Regions from separate parts of the Homo sapiens genome. Here regions 1, 2, 3, 4 and 6 are each linked to region 5. The links come from fine-mapping of genetic effects on gene expression. A gene starts in region 5. Each other region holds a variant in brackets. All regions are shown on one strand. Distances are from middle to middle. Region 1 overlaps VAT1L (vesicle amine transport 1 like). Region 2 overlaps LOC107984878 (a long non-coding RNA gene). Region 3 has its middle 42 kb from the start of NUDT7. Region 4 overlaps LOC107984878 (a long non-coding RNA gene). Region 5 holds the start of NUDT7 (nudix hydrolase 7). Region 6 has its middle 27 kb from the start of NUDT7.

Evidence for each region. PIP is the estimated chance that this variant, and not a neighbour inherited with it, causes the effect.
Region 1: its variant is the best candidate, but not a certain one, in a credible set for the expression of NUDT7 in tibial artery (GTEx, PIP 0.86).
Region 2: its variant is the best candidate, but not a certain one, in a credible set for the expression of NUDT7 in subcutaneous fat (GTEx, PIP 0.61).
Region 3: its variant is the best candidate, but not a certain one, in a credible set for the expression of NUDT7 in whole blood (TOPMed, PIP 0.55).
Region 4: its variant is the best candidate, but not a certain one, in a credible set for the expression of NUDT7 in whole blood (TOPMed, PIP 0.62).
Region 6: its variant is the best candidate, but not a certain one, in a credible set for the expression of NUDT7 in whole blood (INTERVAL, PIP 0.56).

The regions. Positions count from the first base shown.
Region 1 is chr16:77,879,864-77,883,863 of GRCh38, reverse strand. All of the region lies in intron 6 of VAT1L (vesicle amine transport 1 like), which reads right to left. Among named protein-coding and RNA genes, the nearest start is that of VAT1L, 93 kb to the right of the region's middle. The variant C/T (reference allele first, on the strand shown) is at 2,312.
Region 2 is chr16:77,749,894-77,755,261 of GRCh38, reverse strand. All of the region lies in intron 5 of LOC107984878 (a long non-coding RNA gene), which reads left to right. Among named protein-coding and RNA genes, the nearest start is that of NUDT7, 30 kb to the right of the region's middle. The variant C/T (reference allele first, on the strand shown) is at 2,218.
Region 3 is chr16:77,677,596-77,682,963 of GRCh38, reverse strand. No RefSeq gene overlaps it. Among named protein-coding and RNA genes, the nearest start is that of NUDT7, 42 kb to the left of the region's middle. The variant C/T (reference allele first, on the strand shown) is at 2,934.
Region 4 is chr16:77,755,805-77,761,172 of GRCh38, reverse strand. It overlaps LOC107984878 (a long non-coding RNA gene), which reads left to right. Exons shown (of 6, transcript XR_002957866.2): 5 at 3,721-3,786. Among named protein-coding and RNA genes, the nearest start is that of VAT1L, 30 kb to the left of the region's middle. The variant C/T (reference allele first, on the strand shown) is at 2,438.
Region 5 is chr16:77,720,065-77,725,432 of GRCh38, reverse strand. NUDT7 (nudix hydrolase 7) reads right to left here and starts at 2,919. Exons shown (of 4, transcript NM_001105663.3): 1 at 2,816-2,919; 2 at 1-2. The coding sequence starts at 2,850. RefSeq lists a silencer at 2,944-3,073 and an enhancer at 2,787-3,081.
Region 6 is chr16:77,692,391-77,697,758 of GRCh38, reverse strand. No RefSeq gene overlaps it. Among named protein-coding and RNA genes, the nearest start is that of NUDT7, 27 kb to the left of the region's middle. The variant T/C (reference allele first, on the strand shown) is at 2,569.

The sequences.
Region 1 (4,000 bases), 160 kb before region 5:
CCACTCTGACTGCAGAAGCAGCTTTCCTGGGGGAGTGGTTTTGATAAGGCTAAATCTGGGGAGGCGGGTAGGGATCCATCGGATGAAGAGGGAGGAGGGATGATTTAGGAAGAAGTAACAGCATGAAGAAATGATGAGGCCAAATTGTTGGGACTGAATCAATGGTTCTGAACTGGGGGTAGTTTTGTCCCCCAGAAGGCATTTGATATTGTTTGGGGATTTTTGTTTGTTTGTGATGACTGAAGCGGGAGGTGGTGCTACTGGCGTCTAGTGGGTGGAAGCCAGGGATGCAGCTAAACATCCCACAGTGCTCAGGACAAAGAATATTCACAGCAAAGAATAATCCACAACAAAGAATTACCCAGCCCCAAATATCCATAGCATTAAAGCCGAGATGCCCTGGACTAAAGTTCTGGGTGAAATACCTACAAACTATTTAATGTGGCCATCTCTTTTCCAGTCTGTCATCTCCTCCCTTCATATCAAAATAAGTAAATAATCCACTGGAAACCTAGAGAAATGGGGATCCAACTGCTTTGTTATGATTTAATTGCTTTTCCTTTGGTGCTGGTTATAGGTTAGAAATCCAAGCGTCCAGTTTCTGGGGGATTCTAGGGGATAAGATGTTCAAAATCATTTCAATACAGGATGCAAAGAGGAATGTGATGGGCATTTAGAAACATTGATAGCCTTTATGTTATCATTGAGCTCATTTATATCCTGTTTTCGAAAAGAATTAAGGAGACTGACTAAAGTGAAAATTTTTTATTTTTTTTAATTGGGAAGCTCGTGTCACTAGGAGAATAAGCATGGAAAAGGCAGGTTGAAAACAATGATGAGGTTCATATACAAAATTATTTACAAAAGCACATTCGGAGAGGGCCGGGGGACCAATAAGAGCCACGCATTTGACCTTAGGTTTCTTGGCTTTCAGTTTTGATGGTCTTACCTGGCAAGGGTTTGTGGCACAGATGGTGTGGTGAGGCATGTGGTTTGGAAATCACTAAATAACTTAACGTATTCCTTACATCCAAAATTCTATTCTATGGGACAGTGATTTTTAGGACCCTCATTTAAAACAAACCAACTTGGGAAATACAGCAAATATAGAAAAATAATAACTTGATTCACAGTGTATCTGCAATGCCTCAGTGAATGTTTGTGGAATGAATGCTTGCTGCAAATGTACAGTTGTGGTTAAGAAGGTTATAGAGCTGAATGCCTAGTTTTGAATCTCAGCTTTGTCACTTACTAGCTGTGTGACTTTAGGCAAATCTCTTAACTTCTCTGTGCTCAATTTCCTCACTGTTCCTCATGGGGTGGTTATGAGGAGTAAATGTGTTAATGCATATCAAGTGCTTAGCACAGTGTCTGCCACGCATGAGGTGCTCTATAAACATACACCACTTTTATTATCTTAATTTGAACAAGATGTTTTTGGTTTAGTGAATAAGAGCTCCAAATTTGGAGTCAGATTGCTCTGTAAATGTTAACTTCTTCTATTAGTATCATCATCGTTATGGTGTGAAAGAAAATAGCATGTTTGACAAATAGTGAGGCACAAACTGCAGCGATTTTAAGATGCAACATCATTAAGATAGCTGAGTGGGAAATTCCTGTATAATTCCAGTCGACCTTTAATTTCTAAGCCCTTCTTGAATACATTGAAAAATTTTTTTTCTAGGACTTTTCAGAGCAAAGTTCCACCTCTTCGTAGGCCCTCTCTTCAGTTTTCTTCCAAATGACCCTCAGTGTTTGAGCAGGCCTCTGAAAGAAAACATCCTCATTCTTGACCTCCAGGTACAAAGCGTTCTGGAAATAGGAACCCCTGCTTTGGGCAGAGGAATCTCCATCCCCATCCTGGCTGTGCATTTATGAATGCCTTCATTGAGCATGGGCACGCTGCAATTATTTCATTAACACTGTGTGTTGGGATTGTGCATTTAGAGGAGAAAGGGAAAACACTTCTTACAATTGTATGTAATTTGGGACCAGTGTGGTTACCCACAGCAGTCTGTCAACATCATGTTAATTACAGCCACAGCAACAGAGCAGCTGTGCATGGCACAAAGCCTGTCTTCAGGGGACACACTCCAGACAGCATCCTTCATTACACTCCATTCTTGCTCCTCCTGTCGGTTCTGTAGTTAGGATGATCCTTGACCCATATTTTAAAGCCCAAATGCAAAGAGAAGACCTTTGATTTGAATCTCACAAATGCAGGGAGTATTATCCATTCCAGAATGTTTGGGGCTGATGTTTCTGGAAGCTGATGTTGGCACTTTGAGGGCATATGAATAGCACATAGTGC[C/T]ATACTTAGAATGAATTCCAAACTCCTTACCATACTTTTCACTGACCACTTTGTTTTAATTGCCTCCACCCACCCTGCTATTTTCTATTTTAGCACTTGATTTTTATCCTCTTCAGAGGTTTAATAGCCATTTATAATCATGTTAATTAACATATCTTGCTTATTTTGGGTTTGTCTCCCTCATTAGTATATAAGAACCAAAAAGGCCCAAAGTGCACCTATCTTATGTGCTGTAATAGCCCAGTGCTTGGCACAATACCACAAACAGCAGGTGCTCAGAAAATGCCTGTCAAATGAGTGGATCAATTGACGCTGCACTGGCACATAGAAGTCCAAAAGTAGAGGGGGCAAAAATAAACCCTTGTGAAAAGCAGCAATCCCCTGTTGGGGAGGGGTAAAAATAAAAGTTCCTACCATTTGACCCAGCAGTCTCATTACTGGGTATATATCCAAAAGAAAGTAAATCGTTCTATCAAAAGGACACATGCACCCGTATGTTCATTGCCATTCTATTCACAATAGCAAACACATGGAATCAACCTAGGTGCCCATCAATGGTGGACTGGATAAATAAAATGTGAGACGTATACACCATGGAATACTATGCAGTCATAAAAAAGAATGGAATCATGTCCTTTGCAGCAACGTGGATGCAGCTGGAGCTCATTTTCCTAATCAAATTAATGCAGAAACATAAAAACAAATACTGCATGTTCTCTCCTAAGTGGGAGCTGGGTACTCATGGACATAAATATGGGAACAGTTAACACTGCAGACCACTAAAGGGGACTGGGAGGGGGGCAGGGGTTGAAAAACTATTGGGTACTATGCTCACTATGTGAATGAGAGGATCATTTGTACCCCAAACTTCAGCATCATACAATACCCGGGCAAAAAACCTGCACAGGTACCTCCTGAATCTAAAAAGTTGAAATTACTAAAAAAAAAAAAAAAAAAAAAATACCCTGGAACGTGCGAAGAAAAAAAAAAAGCAACATGGGCTGGTGCTGGTGTACTGGTGGTTCATTTCAAAGAAGAGAAGGAATTTGGGCTGGGGAAGGGGTGTTGAAATGATATTTAAAAAACTAAGTTTGGCCGAGTACGATGGCTCACACCTATAATTCCAGCACTTTGGGAGGCTGAGGCAAGCGGATTGCTTGAGCCCGGGAATTCAAAACCAGCCTGGGTAACAGGGTGAAACCTTGTCTCTACCAAAATAAATACATAAATTCGCTGGGTATAGTGGCACACACCTGTAATCCCAGCTACTTGGGAGGCTGAAGCAGGAGGGTTGCTACAGCCCAGGAGGTGGAGGTTGCAGTGAGCCGAGACCATGCCACGGCACTCCAACCTGGGTGACAGAGCTAGACTCGGTCTCAAAAAAGTTCAAGCCAACATCAGTATAATTCTAGCAAGTATAGCTCCAGATAGGAAGATAGATCAGAGTCAATTTGTAGTGAGGTGAATGCCCAGGGATGTCGCTTTGCAATGGCCGACAAACTAACCACCATATTGAAAGCATGATCACCCAAGAGAGTGGTTCATGAGCTTGTCTGAGTCTACAAGTCACCTCAGGATCTTGTTAAGGTCATAGGGTCCTCATTTCTATCTCCGATTCAAGAGGATGGGGAGACAGAGAAATCTCAAGTACCCCCAGAGACCTGGTCAGAAAGTAGCAAAGTGAAAGGC
Region 2 (5,368 bases), 30 kb before region 5:
GGCGCACGCAAGCAATGGACTTGGAGGGAGAACGAAAGGGAAGGAAGATGGTCTCGCAGCCATGAATATTCTACTAAAGTGTGGCCTGGGCAGCTAAACTGATGTACTCCAAAGATGTGCCAACGATGGCCTCCCTCTGATCACCTTAGGTGAATTCAGTCCCTGAAAATTCTAGTTTCAGAATTTGAATTTTTGCTTTCTATCTTTTTTAATTTAGGGATTAGGTTTTTTGTTTTGAGGGGATTTTGTGTTTTTAAGTTAAAAAAAAAAACTCCTCATACTCAGACATTCCAAGTCCTTATATTTTATATCCTTTCAAAACTTTGTTTTTAAAATTACTTTTATGGATTATTAAAGCAGTGTGTACACATTGTAGAAAAATTAGGAAAAAAGCCCCCCAAAAATAAAAACTACCAAAAAACAAAGAATGTAAGTGATAATTATAATCCCAACCTCCTCCCTGAGAAGACAATTTTTAACACCTCTATGAATATCCTTACAAATAGAGAAGTATGGATAAAACTGACAAAAATGAAATCATATATATCTTTCTATAATTTACCATAATTTATTTAAACCATTTACAACTTGTTTGGTGTCTAGGTTGCCTTCAATTTTTCCTAATGTATACAAATATAAAGCTGGACTAATTAGCTGAGAATAAATTAGACAATCTTTAAAATAGAAAAAAATGAATAATTCTAAAACATAATTAAATATGCATGAATAGTACTAAAATTAGCCCATGATGAAACAAATCATCAGTATTAAAAAATAATACAAATTAAAGTAGCAGTGCTTGGGAATTTTATTTTTACCTAATCATTACTGTGATTTCATTCTTGTATTGACCTACTTCTTGGCAATAAAATGACCTTGACCATCTAGTTTTCAGCCAAATTAATTCATTCATCCACTCAGTACTTATTTATTGAATTCCTAATGGAAAATAAAATATAATTGAAAGTCCCCACACTCACAGAGCTTGTGTTCTAGTGTGAGAGATAGGAAAAAAAACCAAGTATGTACCCAAAAAATACCAGATATGGAAGTAAAATATGGGTGCATGAGAGAGAATGACATCAGCGTTAGACTCTTCCAGGAAACGACAGGTGTAGTGAGAACTGATGATAAAACAAGTGCCATCCATGCAAAAACCAGGGTGAAGACAATTGCTGGGAGAGGGGCATCTAGTGCAAGAGCACTATGGTGGGGGCAAGCATAGCGTTTCCAACAGGAGAAAGAAGCACAAGCTGAAGGAAGTTCAGTGGCCAAGATCAAGAAGGGTCAGAAGTAGGCGGAGTCCACAATGTGCCAGTTTTGTCAACCAAAGACAAAGGTTGAACTTTATTACAGGCACAGGTGGGTAAGCGCACTAACCCACGCCTGCAATCCCAGCACTTTGGGAGCCAGATGAGAGAGGATCATTTGAGGGCAGCCTGGGCAACATAGCAAGACCTTGTCTCTACCAGAAATGAAAAATAAAGAAAGAAAAAAATAAAGTCAGTCACAGTTGGACGACACTAGAAGGTTTTAGGCCAAGAAACGGCATGACTTTATTCATGACTTCAAAAGATCACTCTGGATGTTGGGTGAAGAAGGGCATATAAGGAGCAAGAATAGGTGCAGGGGAGGTAAGGGGTTGAGGGGGATGATGAGTCTGGGACCAGGTGCTACAGGTGGAAAGGGGGACAGGATGCATTTAGGGTGTGAATCAGAAGCAGAATGAACAAACTTGCTGATGAAGTGCAGGGAGCAAAGAGGGAGAAAAACAAACTGAAGCATAACGCCTCTGGGACTACTAAGAAGAATTATTTTGTCTGGTGAGTGTTTTTGGACAAATAGCATAACATGTTTGGGCACCTATTATAATATAAAGCATAGTACAAAAATTGTTTCTGATAATAATAATTGTACTTTCCACTTATTAAGTACATGCTATGTACTTAATGCTGATCTCTTTTTTTCTTATTGAACATAGAGGGGATAAAAATATGTACGTTGAATTAAATACTATTCCTCTCATCTCACTTATTAAATTACCAAATAACCCATGTTTTCCATATGGCCTTTGCCCGTTTGAGGATTGCATTGCCAAGGAAACAGATTGTTAAGCACAGGCTCTGCAGGTAAATCCTATTAAATATGTCATAATTCAAACAAAATGCACAAAGCCAACTAGGCTTGGGTTTGGAATATTAGCTTCCAAATGTCCCC[C/T]TCCTAAGGCCTAACTATATACTTAATAAGGTTCAACGTTTAGATGCCTGTCTAATTCTACCCAGAGCCCTGGACTTGTACATTCCTGACCCAAATCCCTGATCTGAATGTCAGAATTTTTAATTAACCTCCCCAAATGGCATTTTCACATAATAAACTCTATGCATGCTGCTAGCTTCGAACAGTAGACAAAAAGTGATCCTTTTCTTTTCCTCAGTCAGATTTTTCCTTTGTAAAACATTAAGCAGAATGGCTTCATTACCTGGATATGCTTAAATGAGGCTGGGGAAAACCCAGAATTGGAGATTTCAAAAGGAAAAGGAATTAGAGATTAACTAGTTCCAATCCGCTTTATACGTAAGGAACCTGAGGTTCAGCAAGATTGTGATTTCTGTCTGCAAGGTTACAGAGCATATTTATGGACAGTACTAGGGGCAATGCCTACCTCCCCTGGCTGGTGATGTCTTCCTTTGTCTCAGGGTTCTTCCATTCACCACCCTCCTCCTAAAAGTCATCCTTGTTGTTCCTTCAGTATAAATTCTTCATTTCCTCCTCCCTCACCTACGTCCTTTGCTCCCCAGTCGTCTCTTCTGGCCCTCATGGCCTTAGCTCTACCTTTCTTCTGCTCATTTCCTAAATGCAGCTTATTCCTCCAAGTCCCACTCCTGATCTTATCATTCACCCCCCTCACTGCAACTCAGGCTCAGGCTCATCAAGCTCGTTACTGGATCAATGAATTCACCCACCAAATGTGTTTTGCACAGCATGTTTTTTTCAATTCAGTGCCCATGGCTTTTGCTAGAAGGCTGTCCTCATTTGACCCTTGTCATTTCATTAAAAAATATCCAGTGGAGTGAGAAAAAAGTGTAATTGAAACCAATGTACCACAAATAAACTCTTCTTATTTAGGAAAATTCACTGCTGAGCTTATTGAATGTGGAAGGTGGGTCCTAGTGGGCATGAGATGCATGGAGCCAAATAGACACCATCCTCTGAAAAGGAAATGAATGTCATTTTGGTGGTGGGAGCAAAGAGAAAAGCAAAAAGGAAGAACAAGCATGTGGAGGAATACAGCATCAGCCTGATACCCAACTTGGTAGAATGGACAGGACTTTTAAAGAACAAGAAAAACATAATATTCAAATTTAAGTTTGGCTCTCTTATGTTGCAATCAAAGTTTACCTGGCTGATATCCCTGTGTCTCCAATTAAAGCCACTCAATGATTTACATACAAGTTACTTTAGGAAAAACAAGGAGAAGCAGTCTCTGTCCTGGATTTGGGTTGGCACTAAGGAAAAAGACCTCAAGATGCAGAATACAGAACTAACATTCACTGAAGCTGGAAATTGAACCTAAGGTGATTAGAAGAAAGGTACTCTCTGAAGGATTTGAATAAATCTTGGGGAGAATATCGAGCTTTCCACTGGAATTACAATGGGGATTTAAGGCAAGTTTTTGTAGATATGAAGGGGCATGGGTCCTAAATATATGGCTAGCATTGAGGCTAGAAGGGTAAAGAAGAGCTAAGTCTGCTCCTCTGGTAGTTCATAGTACATCAAGACAGCTAGGTATGGAAATAACTAAGTTACAAGGCAAAAACTGGTTAAAGATAGGAGCCACTCACTCATGTCCACTCTGGTAGAGCACTTTATATACCTTATACAGTAAATGCAGGAGGGGGTGATTTACAACAATGCTAGACCACCTTAGGTTGACCTTTGTCAAGCAGTCTGTTGGGAAGAGACTGAATTTTCCTTAGCCCACTGAATTAGCTATTTGAGTAGAAATAGCTACTTCTCATTTAGTTGTACTCTTTTATTTAACAAATATCCATTGAGCACCTACTCTTTACCCAGTGTTGTGCCAAGTGCTAAGAGTACTCTTGTGTATGGACCAAAATTGAGACATGACTGTGCCATTATGGAAGTTGAAGTCCAGAGAATGAGGGGACATCAATCAAAGAATCAAGGGGATATCATATTGTAACTATGACAGGAGTTATGAAGTAGAGGTACATGGCACCAAGAGAGCTTATAACAAGGAGAACTAACCTAGCTAAGGTGTCAGAGAAGGCATCCTTCAACAATAAGTATGAGGTAACCAGGCAAAGGGAAATGATTGAGGGATCAGCTTGTGCAAGAGTTCTGAGGCACCCATGGACTGAAACTGAGCCTCTACAGGCCAGTGCTGTAGGAGTGGATGAGCAGGGAGGGGGCTCATGGTACTACACATAACCAGATAGGTAGACAGGAGCCAGGACACGGCCTTGTAAGAGCCATCCATCTTTTTCATAAAAAACAATGGGAAGCCATTTGAGTGCCTCAAGAAAATATGATGATATTTATATTGAAAAATAACTCTGGCTATAGAAGAGAGATGGTGCAGGGTAATAGTTACCAGATAGATGCAAAAGTTTTCAGACGTTTATGACAGCTTTAACTAAGTTGATGTCGGTAGAGATGAGAAGAACTAGATTTGATAGATATTCAGAAGATAAATTCAGTACGATTTGGCGACGGATTAGATATAGGAGTGTCTTAATTTGGTTTACCTAGAAACCTAAAGACAAGATTCAAGTTATTTATTTGGAATCTACAGGGCACATTGTTATGGGAGTGGAGAAATGAGACAAAGAAGGGAAGGCAGCCAATGAAAAGAAGTGTGAAACTTGCCACCACAGCGGGCACCCAGAGTTTAGTTCAGTTTGGGAGCAAGTACAGAACACCTGTCTCAGAATTATCCCACCCAAGGGGCAAAGAACCTGAGCTACTGATATGCAAAATCCCATCAGTCATTGGTTGAGGGTTAATGTAGGGGACATTAATTCCCTGTCACTTCCAGCTGGCCTGCTGTGGCTTTGGAAAAAGCCTGCAGGAACACAGATGCAAATGTTGGCTGTTGGAAGTGATCTGGAGCTCACTGCAATGGTAGGGTCCTAAGGATGTGGGTAGGACACAGACTGTATCTGTACATGGGGTGATCATTACTTCTCCAGTGTCCTAGTGTCCTGGCCACACATGAGTCATCTAGAGCCACTCTGTCCAGTAGAAATATACTGTAAGCCATGTATGTAAATTTAAATTTTCTAGTAGCCACATTCAAAAAAGTACTAAGAAACAGGATAAATTAATTTTCACCCTATATTTAACC
Region 3 (5,368 bases), 42 kb after region 5:
GAATCATGCTAGTTAATGCAACACCAAGGATGTATTGCAGCCTAACAAGCCCATCATCTTCAAAGTGTGTGTAACACGTGGTGAACGCACTTGCACCGTGGCGGTTTCCTTTCTCCATCTGAGGATTCCACAGAGTGCTCCAGCGGAGTTTGTTGCTTCCTCTGAGAAACACTGAAGAGGAGGTGGGTAGCAGCCAGTCAAACCGCCGGAGACAAGCTGCAGCTCTTGATAATAAATGTGTGCAAGCCTGGCTGTGTGGAGTCGGGAGTATCGGCTGATGCGTGTTGTGCTGAAACCAGCCTCCATTAGGTGAGAATCACCCTGAATGGGAGTTCTGAAATTTAAAGTTTCTACTGGGATATGAATGAAATGGAGGAGAGTGTGTGTGCATTATTAATATAGTCCTCATCATTCATTACCTTTGGCTTTTAGGATCTTGTCTCTCACACAGCCTCTCAATAGATGACTATAATTTGGAGGTTGGATGACCTGAGACCGTTATGTAGACGAAAGCCAAAAATTTCTAGAACTGCGATATGCATCATTACTTTTCACAATTCCCTGTAGCAAAGAATATGGATTTATTTTTTTTTTTTTGGACAGGGTCTCACTCTCTCACCCAGGCTGGTGTTCAGTGGTGTGATCTTGGCTCACTATAGCTTTGAACACCTGGGCTCAAGCTACCCTCCTGCTTCGGCCTTTTGAGTAGCTGGGACTCCGGGTGTGCACAACCATGCCCAGCTAGTTTTTCAATTTTCTTTACAGACAGGGTCTCTCTGTGTTGCCCAGACTGGTCTCGAACTCCTGGGCTCAAGCAGTCCTTCCACCTCAGACTCCCGAAGTGCTGAGATTATAGGTGTGAGCCACCATAACGGCCAGAATATTACAGTTATGAGCAAGACACATCAACCTCTGTACTCATATTCATAAAAATTGTAGTAAGTATTCAATAATTGTTAGAATGATGATGTAATAAAATAATAACCAAGGACTTTTTATGGACTATCTCATTTAATCGTTATAGCGATGCTTTCAGGTGAAGAAACTGATGCTTAGCAAAATTTAGTAACGAGGTCAAGGCCACAAAGCTGATGAGAGATAGAACCAGCAGCATTTTTGTAGACCTGACAGCCAATTCTAGGTTCAGTTTCTAGTTATTTTTGTAGAAAATCAGAAGTTAACTAGACAGATATTCAAAGCTATCCTTATTTGTAACATATTTCAGTTAACGAGATTAAGACCATGATGCATTTAATAGATAGGGCTTATTCTGTGTTAATCAATGCATTCATTGGTCCATGCAATATGATTGAGTATACACAATGAGGCAAAGTCTATACTGAGTACTGAAGAGATAAAAATAAGTAAAGTATAGTTCCTTGAGAGAGGCTAGAAAATCTTATCATAAAAGGCATACACAGGGTATTAGGAAAACCAAGAAAAAGAATACTTCACTCAGGTTTAGAAGTGGGAGTGGAGTTCAAGGTAGTTGCACAGAGCCAGTAAGATAAGTCAGAAAGCTGTTGTAAATGTAAAGAGGAATGGGCCAGGGCATGGCTGGGAAATGTAGAAGGGTAGGGTAGGGTGACAATCTGAATATATAATTACTGGGTTACTTACTAAGAGACCTAGCAGTCGTTTCCCTTTCAACTTCTCCCCAACCATGGAGCAAGAACAAGGTTCGAAGCAGCTTAAAACCAGAAGGCTCTTTGGATTAAAGATAGTTGAAATTCCCAGCATTTTGGAGTTCCTAAAACAACTCAGGAAACTCATGCTCCTGCTAACATTCTGTTTTCTACAGCACCTTTGTCCCAGGGGTAATTACAGGGCATCTTTTTTTTTTCCTTCACACTATAGCTCCTTTTTCTTTCTTTCTTTTTTTTTTTTAAGAAAATCATTTGTCTTATTAAAAATGACCAGTATGAGAGGCCAGGTACGGTGGCTCACGTCTGTAATTCCAACACTTTGAAAGGCTGAGGTGGAAGGATTGCTTGAGCCCAGGAGTTTGAGACCAGCCTGGGCAACTTAGCAAGACCCTGTCTCTACAAAAAATTACCCACGCTCCTGCAAAATAAATAAATAAATAAATAAAGACCAGCCTGGGAATGTAAAATAGCGCAGCCACTTTGGAAAACAGTTTGGCAGTTTGTTAAAAAGTTACACATAAAACAAGTTCAGGCCTGGCACAAAGGCTCACATCTGTAATACCAACACTTTGGGAGGCTGAGGCATGAGTATTACTTGAGCTCAGGGGGTTGAGACAAGCCTGGGCAACATAGGGAAACCTTATCTCTTTAAACAAAACAAAACAAAACAAAAAAAGCTGGGTGAGGTGGCATGCACCTGTAGTCTCAGTTACTCTGGAGACTGAGGTGGGAGGATCGCTTGAGCCCTGGAAGGTGAGGCTGCAGTGAGTAGTGATCATGCTGCTGCACTCCAGCCTAGGCAACAAAGCGAGACACAGTCTCAAAAAAAATAAATAAATAAAATTCAAAGTATTAAAAATTAGACATAAATTTACTATATAATCCAGCAATTCTATTACAATGTATCTACACAAAGGAACGGAAAACACGTGTCCACATGAAGACTTGGACATGAATTATCATAGCAACATTATTTGTAATGGTTGAAAACTGGAAACAATCACAAATCCATTGAATGGTAAATGCTTAAACAAAATGAACTGCATCCATAAAAGGAATATTAATCAGGAATAAAAAAGGAACAAAGCCCTGTTACATGCTAGAATGTAGATGAATCTGAAAAACATATGCTGAGTGAAAGAAGCCAGATGCAAACACAGTTTCTATGGTGGCATTGACGTGAAATGTCGTGAAAAGCAGAACTTTAGCAACAGAGGATTAGGGGTTACTGGAGGTGGAAATGAGGCATATAACCTCAAACTGACACAAGGGACCTCCTTGGGCTAA[C/T]GGAAATGTTCTAAAACTGGATTATGGCACTAGTTGCATAACTGAAAATTTACTGCAAAAATCATTGAATTGTACACTTAAAACAAATGAATTTTATGGTACTGTATATAAATTATATCTTTAAAAATATTTTTATAATGATCAATAGCCTTCTAAAATTTTCATTTAGGTTAGATGGCATATCTGAAATGTCATTTTAAACATTAACAACTATAGCAGTCATTTTGGCTCCACACTCTAAAAAACACAACTTTCAAAGCTGTTTTATTCTTTGGCTTAGGAAAGAAAAGAACACAAGACTTTAAGATGGCTCAGGGATTTAGTAAGTCATTGAAGCTGAAACTTTCCACCATGTTCATTGAAATTAAAAGATTATGATTTGCAGATGTTTTCCAGTGGGTCTGGACTGTTTGTCAGCATTTCAGATTCTGTAGAACTTTTTGGGCATGCAATGGAGCAATTAGTGCTGACAGCCCTTTTCTATAATTGTGCTATATCTAAGGCTAGCCCTGGAAATAAACGGTGTTGCTCAACTAACAGCTACGAATTAGCCAAGACAAGAGCATGTTACTTTCCTTTGGTTATGTATCAAATTAGCATTTCACAGGATCGCATGTCTTTTTTGAAGAGCCATGAAGCAGACATTATGGACGCATTTAAAGGAGTCTAATTTGCCTCGATTCTAGTTGTATGTATTAAGCCAACTTTTCTTGGATAAGGACTGAAAGGTATGTAGAGAAATTTAAGTCTAGGAGAGAGATTTATAAGATCAGCACAGATCATTCCCAAGAATCCAAGCAGGCATCGCATGACATTTCAGACTTAACCTTTCACCTCCTAGGAGAGCTGGGTCTTCTGCTCCAGGCTTCCACAGTGATTAAGAACAGTCACTAGTCTCAACCACGCCTATGTTTTGAGTTCTGATTCTACCACATGTTACAACCTTTTTTTGTTTGTTTGTTTGTTTTTTTGAGACCAAATCTCGCTTTGTCGTCCAGGCTGTAGTGCAGTGGTGTGATCTCGACTCACTGCAACCTCCGCCTCCCAGTTTTAAATGATTCTCCGGCCTCAGCCTCCTGAGTAGCTGGCATTACAGGTGTGTGCCACCACGCCCAGCTAATTTTTGTATTTTTAGTAGAGATGGGGTTTCACCATGTCGGCCAGGGGTGGTCTCGAACTCCTGGCCTCAAGTGATCCACCCACCTCCACCTCCCAAAGTATTGGGATTACAGGTGTGAGTCCCCGTGCCAGGCTTTTTTTTTTTTTTTTTTCCTGGGACAGGGTCTCACTCCTGTCTCCCAGGCTGGAGTGGCAGTGGCACAATCACAGCTCACCACAGCCTTGATGTCCTGGGCTCAGGTGATCGTCCCGCCTCAGCCTCCCAAGTAGCTGGGACTATAGGTGCATTGCTAATATTTTTTGTATTTTTAGTAGAGATGGGGTCTCTTTATCTTGCCCAGGCTGGCCTTGAACTCCTGGGTTCAGGCAATCCTTGCCCCTCGGCCTCCCAAAGTGCTGGAATCACAGGCATGAGCCACTGTGCCTGGTATCTCCTACTATCATTGCAACTTTTGGTGAATGATATGGTTTGGCTGTGTCCCCACCCAAATCTCATCTTGAACTGTAGTTCCCATAATCCCCACGTGTCGTGAGAGAGACCCAGTGGGAGGTAATTGAATCATAGGGGCACTTACCTCCATGCTGTTCTCATGATATTGAGTGAGTTCTCACAAGATCTGATGGTTTTATAAGTGGTTCTTCCCACCTTCTCACTCTGCACTTCTCCTTGCTGCTGCCACGTGAGGAAGGATGTGTTCGCATTCCCTTCCACCATGATTGTGGACTTCCTGAGGCCTCCCCAGCCATGCTGAACTGTGAGTCAATTAAGCCTCTTTCTTTATAAATTACCCCGTCTCGGGTATGTCTTTATTAGCAGTGTGAGAATAATCTAATACAGTGAGTACCTGACATTTTTTAATCCTCAGATTTTCTGTCAGAAAACATAAAAATTACGTCTGTTCCAGAGGGTTTTGTTTTGCTTCTGTTTGTTTGTTTTTGAGACAGAATTTCGTTCTTGTTGTCCAGGTTGGAGTGCGATGGCACCGTCTCAGCTCACTGCAACCTCCGGCTCCCGGGTTCAAGGGATTCTCTTGCCTCAGCCTCCCAAGTAGCTGGGATTACAGACGCCCACCGCCATGCCTGGCTACGTTTTTTGTATTTTTATAGTGACGGGGTTTCACCATGTTGGCCAGGCTTGTCTTGAACTCTAACCTCGGGTGATCTGCCCGCCTCAGCCTCCCAAAGTGCTGGGATTACAGGCGTGAGCCACCGCACCCGGCCCCACTGGGTTATCGTGAGGGATTATAAAAATAATTTATATGGAGAGCTTGGCCCAAATTAGGTATCACAAAACATAGGCTATTAGTAACGGTAGT
Region 4 (5,368 bases), 36 kb before region 5:
AGCCTCCAAACTGTTACCAGAATGACCTTTCTTCAATTACTTCTGACCTTGTCAATGACCTGATTTTAACCCTTTAATGGTAGCCTCCTATCTACAGGATGAACATCAGTGTCCTTGGTGAGTCATTCAAAGCATTTCCTAATGTGATTCTTACTGACTTCTTTGCTTTATCTTCTGATCTCTCTGGCTTCATATATACACTCTAGTTTACCTAATCGCTACAGCTCCCTGGATGGGCTTTGCTGTTTCATGTCTTCTTTTATGCACTTTCAAATGCTGTTTCTGCTGTTTGGAATGTCTCTCCCTGTCTTGGTCACCTGCTGCATTTCTAATCATTTTTCAGGACTTAGCTCACCACTTTTGTAAAGCCTTTGAGATTAACTACTTCCTGCCATTGGAAACATATAAACCTAAGGGATACATTCATTCATACTGGATTACGATAGGTTATAGTCAATTTATTTACTTGCCTTTCTCCATGAAGGCATCTCCAGGTGAGCATATACTAATTGTGACAGCCACTAAATGAATACAAATTTCAACTTTTATTAAAGACCTACTAAGTGCCAAATTAGAGACCCAGGTATAACAGGCTGTATAATAGCCCCCCAAAACACCCACATTCTAACCCCTAGAACCTGTGAATGTTTCCTTAAAAGGAACATTGCAGATGTGATTAAGTTAAGGATCTTCAGATAGGAAGATTATCTTGGAATATGCAGGTGGGCCCTCAGTGTAATTACAACTGTCCTTTTAATGGATGGTAAGAGGAGGGACCACGTGGCAGTGTGAATACTGAAGCAAGGTGCTATACTGCTGGCTTGGAGATGGGGAAAGGAGGCATGAGCCAAGAAATGAAGTGCTAGAAGCTGGAAGGCAGAGGAACAAATTCTCCCCCAGAGCCTCCGGAGGGAGCACGGTCCTGCGAACACTTTGGGTTCAGCCCAAGAAACTGATTTCAGATTTCTGGCTGCCAGAAGTTCAAGAGAATACATTTGTATTGTTTTAAGCTGCTAAGTTTGCAGAAATCTGTTACAGCAGCAATAGGAGCCTAATACATCAGATAACAGATATAATAGGACAGGAATGACAGATGGTAATTATAGAGGAAGTGTGAAATAGAGCAGTGCTTCTCGAACTTCAGTATGCACAGGAATCACTGGGGATCTGGTGAAAGTCAGATGCTGAGTCACTAGGTCCAGGGAAGAATCTGAAGCTCCACATTTCCTTGCAAGCTCCCGGGTGAGGACGTTGCTACTTGTCCAGGGACATCACTTTGAGTAGCAATAAAATAGCAATGGCCAAATGTAGATGAGACAGATCAAAACAAAGAGTTTTGGAGAGGCAGCTGTGATTCTTGATATAATTTCTGTTTTTTTTTTTTTTTAATTTGTACACACTTGTTTTGTGGCCTAAGATATGGTCTATTCTAGAGAATGTTCCATGTACAGGTGAAAAGAACGTGTATTCTGCAGCATTTGAGTAAAATGTTCTGTAAATATCAGTTAGGCCTACTAGATGGAGTGTGTAGTTTAACTCTACTGTTTTCTTTGTTGATTTTCAGTGTGCACAGAGTTTTAAGGACACAAATCAGATGGGCATGAGTGAAGTGCCCAGGATGGACCTATGTTCATCCCACCAATGATTCAGTGCCCCTCCTGGTCAGGTGTCCAGAGGCCTCACACTTTTATTATGTCCATTATTCCCAGCAACCCTGCAGAGTAGGCATCCTAATGCTTGTTTGACAGATAAGGACATGGAGGCCTAGAGGATTAATGGCTTTGGCCACACCCACATGGGACTAGAATTGTGTAACTCCAACATATGTGGGTTACTTTTTTTTTTTTTTTTAACTTTACTACCTTTTCGAAATCATGGATAATATACATGTGCTATGGGGCTTTGCAGAAAGATTAGTGATCCCAGCTAAATGGAGATTTTCATCCTCCAATGAAACATGCTCATATTACCAGGGACAGAAATTGGACTTGCTAAACCTAGGCTGAAAAGGAACCAGAGTTTTTATCAGGGCATCTTCTTAGGGAAAGTGACAGCCCAAACGCTCAGAAGGCAGAGTGAGCCCTGCGCAGACAAGAGGGCTGAGAGGGTGGAGAAGGAAGGGCCTTGCCTCCCTGTTGGTGGTAGAGAGGATGTAGAGGAAGGTGCATGAGTATGAATCAGCCCTGTAAGAGACCCCACAGGGTCAGATCAGAGAAGCTAAGGGCAGTCAGCAAATCCAAGGAGCAAGGAAAAGGCAAAAATAGGAGGAGAAATTAAGACTAGTTCCAGATCCAGGACTAGATCCAAAACCAGAGACTAGATCCAATGCCAGGACTAGATCCAAATCCAGGACTGGATCCAGAACGGGGACTAGATCCAGAATGGGGACTAGATCCAGATCCAGAGACTAGATTTGGATCCAGAGACTAGATCCAGA[C/T]CAGGACTAGATCCAGAACCAGGACTAGGTCCAGATCCAGCACTAGATTCAGAACCAGGACTAGACTGAGAACCAGGACTAGATCGAAATCCAGGACTAGATCTAGATCCAGAGACTAGATCCAGAACCAGGACTAGATCCAGAGCCAGGACTAGATCTAGAAGCAAGACTAGATCCAGATCCAGAGACTAGATCCAGAACTAGGACTAGATTCAGATCCAGAGACTAGCTCCAAATCCAGGACTAGATCTAGATCCAGAGACTAGATACAGATCTATAACTACAGAGGGACAGCAATGGTATCAAGAGCCAAACATCAGCCACAAAGGGAGCCACATCCTTTATCCATCGCCAGCTATGCAGCCTTGGCAGGTCTCTTCTTCTGCTGCCTGAGAATGGTTACACTGATGCTGAGTGGCGGTGAGGAATGGAACGAATCTACACAAGGCTTCGGTCATTCTATGCTGTGATGAAAGTGACCAATTCTCTTAGAATCACAGTGTCTGCTATTGTTCTTTATGAGTTAGTGGACTTATGGTCCCAGATGGAACAAAGTGACCTGACATACGAGTTTGCCACAGAGTTCCTGCAGCTTCTGAATGAACAAGCCCTATATTAGCAAGCTTTTTCTTGGTATTGTTTGGGTTATAGTTTTATGGCATAGAAGATAAAGAGAAATCTTTGCATTTTTTCTAAATTATTGAAGATCATCAGAGGTTAGGAGGAGAAAGGAAAAGTAAACTTTGGGTAGCAAGTTTTAATCTTTTTTTTTTTTTTTTTTTTTTTGAGACACAGTCTCGCTCTGTTGCCCAGGCTGGAGTGCAGTGGTGCGGTCTCGGGTCACTGCAACCTCCAACTCCTGGGTTCTTGCCATTCTCCTGCCTCAGCCTCCCGGGTAGCTGGGACTACAGGCACCTGCCACCACGCCCGGCTAATTTTTTGTATTTTTAGTAGAGATGGGGTTTCACCATGTTAGCCAGGATGGTCTCGATCTCCTGACCTTGTGATCTGCCCGCATTGGCCACCCAAAGTGCTGGGATTACAGGCGTGAGCCACCGCGCCCAGCTGGAGGATTGTTTTTATGGAAGTGCTGGTAGGGGTGGGATGCATTCTTTCCTTTGGACTTTAAACTTGTGAACAGAATTCTATAATCCAGGTGTTTTGGGTATTGTTTCTAAAAATACTTTGGCCCCTTAATGATTTAATTTTTATTGATCAACTTTAGGGTAATGGAGGATAACCCAATAAATTAATAACATATTGCATGGTTCATTTCTCATTAGCTCATCCAAGATCAACTGCAGAGGAGGACGAGGGAAATTTTATATGGGAACAATTATCTGAAAAATGTGAGTATCTCAAGATAATCTGATTGCTTAGTTTTAGCTAACCCTGAGGTCTAAATACTTACAGCCAAGAGAATTTATCTGATGAGTTTAGTCCAAGAAACACAACTTTATTTTCCCACTACTAGCTGAATATAAGTGTCAATTTAAGAGTGCTACATGCCCTACAAACATCGATCGCCTCATGTTCCAAATGAAAAAGTTCATTAGTGAGCTTCTCTCCTGATGTGTTATTATTAACTGGAAGCTAAAATTAATGAATTTTGTCGGATTGCCTCAAGTAGTGATAGGGAATGATAGAATTCTTCAGCAGTCGATTTCTATTCTATCATCTGCTTAGTTTTGTTGTTGTTGTTGTTTTCTTTTCTTTTCTTTTCTTTTTTTTTTTTTTGAGGAGTCTTGCTCTGTTGCCCAGGCTCTGGAGTGCAATGGTGCAATCTCGGCTCACTGCAAGCTCTGACTCCAGGGTTCACGCCATTCTCCTGTCTCAGCCTCCCGAGTAGCTGGGACTACCGGTGCCTGCCACCACGCCTGGCTAATTTTTTGTATTTTTAGTAGAGACAGGGTTTCGCCGTGTTAGCCAGGATTGTCTGGATCTCCTGACCTTGTGATCCACCCGCCTCGGCCTCCCAAAGTGCTGGGATTACAGGCATGAGCCACGCGCCCGGCCTTTTTTTTTTTTTTTAAATAAATGTCACTCATAGGGGTCTTCTGAACTTAGTATGGCCTGGAAATCTCAGGGCACAATGGATAAATTGCATTATATTTCTCCACTGCTGTAAATGTATTTGATATTGGGGTTCCTTTGGTTGCAAGAGACAGAGATCCAGTTCAGACATGCTTAACAAATCATGTTATCCACACACATAACTTGGAAATTCACTGATGATCAATAGCCAAAGGCAATATGAAAACATGCTGTATAGATGAAAAACACAGCTACCACCAAGCCCTTAACACATCTGATTTCTCTTCTTTTGGTCTTTCATGGGAAATGTAACATTAGTGGGGCTGGAATATAGGTTCTGTAATAGCAATCCTCACTTAAGTAGCCTTGTGTTCTTGGGCAAGCATTGAAATTCACCAAATCTTTCACTGTACAACAGAGCTTGCCATTCTAGTCTGGCACATAGGATTATAAGGACAAGTAAACAAGAAGCCAAGTGACAGAACTCTATGAATATATGTAATCGTCCATTTCATTTGTTCTTTGGGTCCTTTTAGACCCAACTGTTTCTAGTAGAAGTGGGTGTGGAAGAGGAAGCCATGGAGAAATAGTTGCCTACTCAATGTGGGCAGAGAATGAAGGTTTTCAAAATCGACAAGTCCCATGAAACGACGCACTCTTAGTGTTGTACTGAAAATCTGCAGAATGAGAGACACATGTCTTCTGAATATGATGGCTCAGACTATTTCTTATTTATAATATTTTCCCAAATAATTTCTCATATTTTTCTGTAATTTAAATCCATATTTTCAGGTCAGGATGCTTGTGATCGTTTAGTGGACTTGAAATTTTGCACAATGATGAACGATTTTTTTCCTGTCTTGATAAGCAAGTCATAGGGGATGGTCTGGGGAGATA
Region 5 (5,368 bases):
TTCTAAAATAAAAACAAACCAGACAGACATTTTAGCAAGCAGAGTTATGGTAAAAAGCTTATAGTCCTGCCTCTGTTTCTGCTTTGTTGTGTATTTAGGAGTTTGCCATTTCTGACTCTCTGTGTATTTTTCAATAACACGACAGAAATGATACTATCTAAATTGCGTGGTTGTTCGCAAGATGAAAATGACAAAAAAACCTTCTAAGCACACAGTTTAGTACACAGGTTCTCTTTGAAACATAAAGTATGGTAAAATGTTTTTTCAATAATGCAACAGTTGAATTTTGAAACCCATAATTATATTCAGAGAAGACAGGTTTGATGAAAAAGTCATTGTTAAGGTTAGAAGGTTAGAAGACTACCTTCTGTTAAGCTGGCCCTTATGTTCTCAAACTCTTATGTCTTCAACTGCTTATAATAGTGGTTCCCAAGCTTTAGCAGCAACAGAATCACCTGGAGCGCTGGCTGTCACATAGACTGCGAGGTTCAGTCCCAGACTGTGACTCAGTAACTCTGGTGTAGGGCCTGAGAATTAGCATTTGTATCAAACTCCCTCATGACAGCGTTACTGACGCTGTGGACAGGGGAACACATTCTGAGAACAATTTCCCAATAATATGCAAGCATTTGGATTTAAAACCGCAAATGGTGCCCTTCCTATGTGGACTTGTTTTGGTCCTTTTGACAGGTGTGTTCTACTGCTAGTTTGTATAGTGGGTTGAACAGTATCCCCTCACCCCTGAAATTCATGTCTACCCCAAACTTCAGAGTGTGACTTTATTCAGAAATAGGATCTTTTCAGATGTAATTAAAGTGAGCTCTAAATCCAATGACTGTTGTCCTGATAAGAAGCAGAAACGAGCCCAGTGCAGCGGCTCACGCCTGTAATCCCAACACTGGGAGGTTGAGGCGGGAGAATTGCTTGGGCCCAGGAGTTTGAAACCAGCCTGGTCAACATGGTAAGACCCTGTCTCTACAAAAGAAAAAAAAAAAAAGCATAAATTAGCTTAGGCATGGGGCATGCAACTGTATTCCCAGCTACTTGGAAGGCGGAAGTGGGAGGATCACTTGAGCCCCAGAGTTCAAGGCTGCAGTGAGCCATGATTGCACCACTGCACTCCGGCCTGGGTGACAGAGTGAGACCTGACTCAAAAATAAAATAAAATAAAAGAAGAAAAAACATGGAGAGATGCACACAGGGAAGAAGACCATGTGAAGATGGCGGCAGAGGTTGAAGTGATGCTGCTGTGAGCCAAGGAATGCCAGAAACCACCAGAAACTGGAAGAGGCAAGGAAAGGTCACCCCCAGAGCCTTCTAAGGGAGTGAGGCCCTGCCGATACCTTGATTTTGGACTTCCAGGCTTCATAGCCATGAGAGACCATTTCTATTGTTTTAAAACACCCAGTGTGTGGTACTCTGTTATGGCAGCCCTAGAAAAGGAACAGCTGATTTTACTTTTTCTGTGGGAAGGCAGCTTTGCATAGTGGGCAGAATCAGCTATTTAAGATACCCAGAATTGGCTTCAAATGTATATAGGAGGCCTGGTACAGTGGCTCATGCCTGTAATCCCGGCACTTTGGGAGACTGAGGAAGGTGAATCACTTGAAGTCAGGAGTTCGAGACCAGCCTGGCCAACATGGTAAAACCCCACCTCTACTAAACATACAAAAATTAGCCGGGCATCGTGGCACATGCCTGTAATCCCAGCTACTCAGAAGGTTGAGGCAGGAGAATCGCTTGAACCCAGGAGGCAGAGGCTGCAGTGAGCCGAGATTGCCTACTGCACTGTAGCCAGGGCGGCAGAGTGAGACTCTGTCTCAAAAAAAAAAAAAAAAAAGTGTATACAAATGACTTCTCTGAGTTTCATCTTCATTTGTGTCAGGCTTGAGGATATTTAAGAAGATTAAATGATGCAGTTCATATACTGTGGCTGGCACACAGCTGGTGCTCAGGGAATGGTAACCACTGTCATAAATCTCCCCATCATTAGATAAGCAGTTGTTTGCAGGAGGTATTTGCTATTTTTTGCCTCTTTCTAGGTGGCAGGGTGCTCACCAGATGTGGTTGGGTAACGGCAGTGTATTTCAAAGACCAAATGGCCTGAAAAAAATCAGTGAATGCTGGCACAGGGATTGCACAGTGCATCTGGATGCACGCAGGCCAGCCTCCAGAAAAGGAAACTGTGGGCTGGTGGCTTTTAACCACCCGGAAACCACAGAACTGACCAGACAAACCAGCCAAAGTAAAAGGCTGCAAAAACGTTATCTGTCCACTTTAGGGGCTGGCCGCTGGAATAATCACCAAGGTATCAACAGCAGTAGCAGCCACCCCGTTCTGAGCATGGTCTCAATTTTGACGTTTCTCATTTTATCCTCACAACAGCCCGGCAAGTGATCACAGGGTCACCTCCAGGCTCAGAGAGTTTACGAAACTGACAGACCCAAGGTCACAACTGAAAGTAGCCACCGGGGGACTTGAATCCGGGGCTGCCTGCTGCGGGTCTGTGCCACTGTCGGGGGTCCTGGGGTCCAACTCTGGAGACGCGGATTGCAGAACAGCCAAGCCGGCTGGGAAGGGGAGCAGCGTGTATGTAAACCATACTGGCTTAAGCCGGCTCTGTTCCTGGCCAGAGCAGTGCAAAGGTTCGGGGACCCTGCGGGTTGCTGGAGGCGAGTGCTCCCCCATCCGGCGCTCGCAGGTGGACTGGCGGGAGCTGCAAAATCAGTCCCGGCCAAAAGGCCCCGGTGGCCTCCGCTACGATCAAGGCCGGGCCTGACCAAGCTCGGGGTGCCAGGGCCCGGAAAGCCTTTACCTGACTGGCTCCTCGGGAAGACCAAGTCGTGACATTGCCCTGGGGAATGTTTGTTTCCGGGCGGACTCCTCGGAGCTGCTCGGTCGGTCGCGCTTGCGCAGAGCAGCTCTGGGCTTGGGAGCGGCCTAAAGCCAGAGAGAGGGGCGGGGCTTAGAGCACGAGGCGGGGTGGTGTCTGGGGCGGAGACAGGGGGCGGGGCGGTGCGAGATCTGGGATCGGAGGCCGGGATCGGGGCGGGGCGGGGCTTATAGCCAGAGGCGGGACTTGAGGTGGGGAGAGGCGCGGGGCGGGACTTAGGGCCGGGTGTTCCTGGTTGCTCAAAGCAGTTTCTGCCGGGCTCCTTGGGCTTCTATGGAAGCAAGAGGTATAGGAGGAGTTGTGGAATTTAGAGCTGGAAGAGTTAAAAAAAAAAAAAATACAGTGTTGGTGAGGTGATAATATTTTACACTCGCATTCGCTGTTGCTGGAAGGTTAAGGTGATTCATTCAACTTTTTGGAACTGCTGTCAGCACCTGTTCACCGACCACCTGTATGCACTGGGTGCAGATCCCACAGCTAGCGAAAAGACACGTGGAGCTCACAGTCAAATGGTAGAAACATAAATTAATCACACAGGGCTGGATGCAGTGGCATATGCTTGTAATTCCAACACTTTGGGAGGCCAAGAGGGGAGGATCACTTGAATCCAGGAGTTCGAGCCCAGCCTGGGCAACATGGCGAAACCCCATCTCTACAAAATAAAAATAAAAAATTAGCCAGGCGTGGTGGCACACACCTGTGGTCCCAGCTACTCAAGAGGCTGAGGTGGGAGGATCGCTTGAGCCCAGGAGGTCGAAGCTGCAGTGAGCCGTGATAGCACCACTGCACTCCAGCCTGACAGAGGTAGACCGTCTCAAAAATAAGAAGAAGAAGATAAGAAGTTTTTAATGCAAAAAAAAAAAAAAAAAAAAATCACACTGATAAAGCAGTGGCCTTTGGTCCTTCTAGAGCGTGTGAAGGAGAAATGTGACCCAATTAGGAGACAGAAGAGGCTTGGTAGAGGAAATAGAAGTGCAGCTCATCTTGAAAGCAGTAGTTCTCAAAGTGTGGTCCTCAGACCAGCAGAATCAGGATCACTTTGGTCCTGTTAAAAATGTGGACTCTGGGCCAGGCGCTGTGGCTCACACCTGTAATCCCAGCACTTTGGGAGGCCAAGTCGGGTGGATCACCTAAGGTCAGGAGTTTGAGACCAGCTTGGCCAACATGGTGAAACCCCATCTCTACTAAAAAAACAAAAATTAGCCAGTGGCAGGCGCCTGTAATCTCAGCTACTAGGAGGCTGAGGCAGGAGAATCGCTTGAACCTGGGAGGCGGAGTTTGCAGTGGGCCGAGATCGCGCCATTGCACTCCAGCCTGGGCAAAAAAAAGCGAAACTCTGTCTCAAAAACAAAACAAAACAAAACAACAACAACAACAACAACAAAAACCAAGAAAGAAAGAAAGGAAAGAAAGAAAAGAGAAAAGAAAAGAAAAGAAAAAAGACGAAAAGAAAAGAAAAGAAAAGAAAAGGTGGACTTTGGGGCCCATGTCACAACTGCTGAATCAGAAGCCAGGTGTCAGGCCCAGTGATCTGTGCTGTAAGGGGATTCTGATGCTCTGTGCGGGATAGAGGACATAAATGAGGAAAAAGGCAAGGGAGAGTGTTCAAGGAAGAGGGCAAAGTTTGTGCAAAGACAGCAGAAAGGGGCTGGAGAACAGTGTGTGTGAGGGAGCCTGGTGCGAGCTGAGAATCCAGGGGTCAGTGTAGGGCTGACTTCTCCCTTACAGGCACAGGACACACACAGTAATTTTAGGGACCTGTGAAAATGTTTTAATTGTAATTTCTTTTTAAATTAGAAGAAGAAAAGGTATGTAATAAAAGCAATATATAATAATGAATCCAGCTTGGATGATAGTCATTTTATGAATTCAGTCATAAAATATTCACTTTAAAATTATTTTATGGAAGAAGGGGTGCACAAAAACAAAGTAGCTAGGGCCCATGAAAGTAATATTGTGGCTGGCCCTAGGTCAGTGGGGCAGTTTGTGAAATTATTAATGAAATGAAATATTAATGAAATATCGCTGTGATATTTACAACATCCAGTGTTTACACACCGTGACATCAATGAAATATCGATGTGATATTTATAATATCCAGTGTTTACACACTGTGATATTAATAAAATATGGCTGATATTTGTAATATACAATGTTTACACACCGTGATATTAATATAATATCGCTGTGATATTTATAATACCCAGTGTTTCCACACTGTGATATCAATGAAATGTCTCTGTGATATTTGTAATATCAAGTGTTGATGCACCATAACATCAATGAAATATCACAGATATTTACAACATCCAGTGTTTACACACCATGACCTCAATGAAATATCAATATGATATTTATAATATCCAGTGTGTACACACCGTGATATTAATAAAATATGGCTGTGATATTTGTAATATACAGTGTTTACACACCGTGATATTAAGCAAACATCGCTGTGATATTTATAGTATCCAG
Region 6 (5,368 bases), 28 kb after region 5:
TCTGTCGATCCCTCTTTTGTTTATGTTCATTGCCTGTGTTACAGCCTCTGATTATTTGTTTCCTTCTCTTATCTGTATCCCTAGAGTGTAAGCTGCAGGAGGGCAGGGAGAGTGATTGTCTTTTTCACTGTTGTGTTCCCAGTACTGAGCATGAAGCTGTTCGTTAAGCACTAAGCAGGTGCTGATACTAGTTTCTCATTGCTGCTGCAACAAATTGCCACAAACTTTGTGGCTTAAAAGAATGCCAATTTTTTTATCTTAACAGTTCAGGAGGTCAGAAGCCCAAAAGGGGCTTCACTGGGCTAGAATCAAGGTGTTGGCAGGGTTGGAGGCTCTGGATGTTCTAGGCAGGGCAATCTGTTCCCTTGCTCTTTTTGTATTTTGGAGGCTGCTCTTGCTCCTTGGCTGGTGGTCTCCTTTCTCCATCTCTCTGTGCCTTTCTTTCATAGTCCCATTTCCCTCGGACTCTTCTGCCTCCAACCTCCACTTTTGAGAGCCTTGTGATTACAATGGGCCCACCTAGATAGTCCAGGATAATCTTCCTAGTTTAAAACCAGCGGATTAGTGTTCTTAATGCCATCTGCAACCTGAATTACCCTTTGCCATGTAATTAAACATGCACAAGTTCTGGGGATTAGGAGATGGACATCTTGGGGGACCATTATTCTACCTTAATAAATATTTATAGAATATTTGAATAAACAAATGGCCAAGTAGTTTGGAAGTTCCTTGTGGACAAATGGCTGTATTTACGTGTCTTTTTGTTGGCTTTTGTGCTTGCTTAAGCTAAGCCGATATTCAGGCTTTTAATTACTCTGGGCCCTTCCTGATTCTCACAGAGGTACAGGGGACTCAAGGATAAGTTCTTCCTTTAATTACCAGCTTCAGAAGAGAACCTGGAGACCCTTAAGGCACTAGGTGAAGAGGGATTTCAAGATCTAATTAAATATCTAATATTCTTTGGAAGGCATGAGATTTATAGATGGTGCCACTGTAATTGGCATGGTCTCTCCAGGAGTGACAAATGTAGGCATTATAAATGTTTGCACATAAGGTAATTCTAACCAAGATGATTAATTTCTGGGAGATAAATACAGGTAAGCTGAAGGCCATGTTTGCAATCAAGTAGAGAGCATTTTCTTCGATCTGAATTGAATTCCAGCAATGGAGTGGAAAAAATATAGAAGTAGATATTTCATGGGGACCATATGAATGGTGCCATCCTCACCTATAAGTGGGATGAAGTAGTAATGTGTCTACTGAGAAAAGTTGCAGACATCCAGCATCCCATAATCTTGTTTTCCCCAAGGACAACACAGTAAAGATAGTTGTGCAAGATGATTTTTTCTTCCTGGGTGAGACCTCACATTTATCTGTCATCTCTTGGGCTATTTTTAGTGGCAGTGCTTTGAAAACTTAAGGAGCCTATCTCCCTGCACCAGGCTCAAGCACAGGGTTGCTATGCAACAGGCTCATCTCCCTGGTGGTTCTCACACTCTTTTCTCTCAGATATTCAGTGAACTGGACCTTGGCTGAAACCAAACAATAGACTGAAACTGCCTCATGAGAAGAAAGAGCAACAGCTTTGGAATCTTACCTGCCAGAGTCCTCACTTCACCTGCTCCCAGTTGTGTGACTGTGGGAAAATCTCCTTATCTCCTCAGGCCTCAGTTTCCCTTTGTGTAAGATGGGGATGTTACTGGTATTTAACCCATGAGGTTACTGTGTGGAGCAAATGTGATTCTACACTTAAAGCATTGAAAACAAAGAGGTTTCACAGAATGGTGGACCATTTTCAATTTGCACAAATTGAGTTTTGTAAAATTGTGAAGAAATTCTATCTGTTAACACTTTGCCCCTCTACCTATTGTGTTTGTTAGACTCTATCATAAGAGACACAGTGGCTCAAGCCTGTAATCCCAGTGCTTTGGGAGGCCGAGGCGAGAGGATCACTTGAGGTCAGGAGTTTGAGACCAGCCTGGCCAATGTGGTGAAACCCCGTCTCTACTAAAAATTAGTTGGGCGCGGTGGCTCACACCTGTAATCCCAGCACTTTGGGAGGCTGAGGCGGGTGGATCACGAGGTCAGGAGATCGAGACCATCCTGGCTAACACGGTGAAACCCCGTCTCTACCAAAAATACAAAAAATTAGCTGGGCGTGGTGGCGGGCGCCTATAATCCCAGCTACTCGGGAGGCTGAGGCAGGAGAATGGTGTGAACCCGGGAGGCGGAGCTTGCAGTGAGCCGCGATCGTGCCACCGCACTGCAGCGTGGGCGACAGAGCGAGACTCCGTCTCAAAAAAAAAAAAGAAAAGAAAAGAAAAGAAAAGGAGGGCTGGGTGCAGTGGTTCACACCTGTAATCCCAGCACTTTGGGAGGCCGAGGTGGGTGGATCACTTGAGGTCAGTAGTTCAAGATCAACCTGGCCAAAATGGCAAAAACCCGTCTCTATTAAAAATACAAAAATTAGCCAGGTGTGGTGGCCCATGCCTGTAGTCCCACCTACTGGGGAGGATGAGGCAAGAGAATAGCTTGAGCCTTGGAGGCAGAGGTTGCAGCGAGCCAAGA[T/C]TGCGCCACTGCACTCCAGCCTGGGCAACGGAGTGAGACTCCATTCCCCGCCCACCCACCCCCTAAAAAGAAAAGGAGGAGTCAGCAAATGGGATAGCATAGGAATAAGCAGCTGGAGGAAAAAGGAGAGGGTCGGTCATAGGGGAGAAGAGAGGAGGAGTCAGGGAGGCCATGCAGCAGACTCTGACTCGGGGAAGGGCTCCTAACTGACTTTACCTCCGACTTGGGCCTGGGAGGAACCAAATCAGTATTACTTTATCGAGACAAAGTGATTTAACATGCCTTTATTAGATGTATTAGAGTTAAGGATCTGTCTAGGAGTGATAGTTTTATAGTGCTCTTCAATGGTTCTCAGAATGTATTTATGACATTTTGGTAAAGAATTCTTTCTTCCTCTCAGAGCGATGGTCATTTAAAAACGGTATAATATGGTTAGCGAAGACACATACACCATTGAATGGTGCGCCCTGAAGGGCCAGTGAACTGTGTAGACAGATACAATTTAACCCTCTTCATTCCTTCCTCATAGGTAAGGCAGTGATGAGGGAGGGGGGTGCGTAATGGACACTTGGATAAAACAATTTACAAACACAACCATGTTCACCAGCAAAATTATTTCATCTGTGTAGTTCAACAACTTTGGTACCAGTGCCCCATGGAAATAAAAAAGGCTTCCCTACAGCTTGTCTTCCTCCTCTATCCCAGCTGATCTTACATATTTTCTGTTAATTCTCAACTTCCAAAACACATTTCTGCTCTAATAAAATGAATGGACGTAGGTGACAGAAAGCAATGATTCTTGGAAATTATGAGTATGTTCTCTCTCTCCTCCTCCCTCTCTTCAAATGCACATTACGTCCTTACTGTGTTCCAGATACTGAATTAGATTCCGGGAATAGAGCAGAGAACAAAGAACACAGAATCTTGACCGAATTGTCTGTATTTTTTTTTAAAAGGAAGCAAATGCCTTAAAAATGACCCCACATAGATACTTATGAAAATGATAAAGAAAATAAGCAGAATGTGGTGATGAGGAAAGGAAGAGGTGCTTGTTTCCTATAGGATGGCCAGAAAAGGACTCTGAGGACGTCATATGTAAGCCAGGAGCTGAACAATAAGTCTTGAAAAGAGCTCGGGAAGAAACCTGCAGGCAGAGGGAGCGCCCAGGTGGGAAGGTGCTAGAACTCACTAGCAGTGGGGGAGTAGCGTGAGGCATATTGAAGAGGAGGAGAGGACCCCAGGGACCTGATGACCGAGCCCTGAAGACCACCTGTGAAGACTCTGAAGGTGCAGAGGGCGGTAGCAGAGATGAGATGGGTGGGACAATTGTGAATGGCCACACCTGTTCAGGTAGGAGCCCAGGGTGCCCTGCCCCAGGGTATGGCTGATGATTGAAGACAGGAGGGCAGATTTGAGGAACATTTTACTCAGTCCCATCTCCATGTGACTACACTTGCTATAGTAGTATTTAAGATTTATTTATTTATTTATTTATTTTTTGGGCAGAGTTTCGCTCTGTTGCCCAGGCCGGAGTGCAGTGGCATGATCTCAGCTCACTGCAACCCCCACCTACCAGGTTCAGGTGATTCTCCTGCCTCAGCCTCCTGAGTAGCTGGGATTACAGGCACACACCACCACACCCAGCTAATTTTTGTATTTTTAGTAGAGATGGGGTTTCACCATGTTGGCCAAGATGGTCTCGAACTCCTCACCTCAGGTGATCTACCCGCCTCGGCCTCCCAAAGTGCTGAGATTACAGACGTGAGCCACTGTGCCTGGCCAGTATTTAAGAAATTTTACTAACTCGTGATAATATCTCTTCCTGGAGCTTTGGGGGATGATGACATCTGCTAGATCCTTTTCTATAGTGCTGTGAGGTATAAACTAAGCTGCTTTTGGGTACTCAATTCTTGTTAATATCTGTAAGAGAAGGAGGCTTGTTAAAATATCACCCTCGGCTTTCATATTCTTAAGGGAATATCACATGGCTTCCCATAGCCTCCTTTGAAGGGTTCTTTCAAATTAAAACCATGGTGCTGGTGGAGGAAGGGAATAAAATGATAAAGTGTTTTTGCTTTGAAATTCACTGGAAAAACTGCCCAGTCAGTAAGCATTTATTAAGTGCTTCCGTGTAGGGCAGCTTTTGACCTATCGAGTCTCAGCCTAGTTGTAAAGTCAGAGACACAAGTAAATAATGTCAGTGGATTATAGGTTTGAATATAATGTGTACTAAAAAATGATGGGGCCACAAAGTCAGGAGTTAATGCTGCCTGTTGAGACTGAAGAGATTTCTCAAGGGAAGTGAGATAGAGGCTGGGTTGACAAGTCTGAGCATTGGTTCACCAGGTGGAAAAGGGGAGTGAAGGGACTTCAGCCATAATGAAATAGTCTGTGCAAAGGCCCTGAGGCAAAAAGAAGTATGCAGGTCTCCAGAAAGCTGAGTCATCTTAAAGGTACATGGTGATGAGCAGCATCAGATGGGACTGGACAGCTGATAGTGGGTAAGCCTATTATGGGAATCCAGGACATTCTAAGCAATTTGGACACTCACCGATAGGTCAGTGTTTTTTTTTTTTTTTTTTTTTTTTGAGACAGGGTCTTGCTCTGTTGCCCAGACTGGAGTGTAGTGGTGTGATCTCGGCTCACTGCAACCTCCACCTCCCAGGTTCAAGTGATTCTCCTGCCTCAGCCTCCCGAGTAGCTGGGACTACAGGTGCCTGCCACCACGTCCAGCTAATTTTTGTATTTTTAGTAGAGATGGGGTTTCACCGTATTGGCCAGACTGGTCTCGAACTGCTGA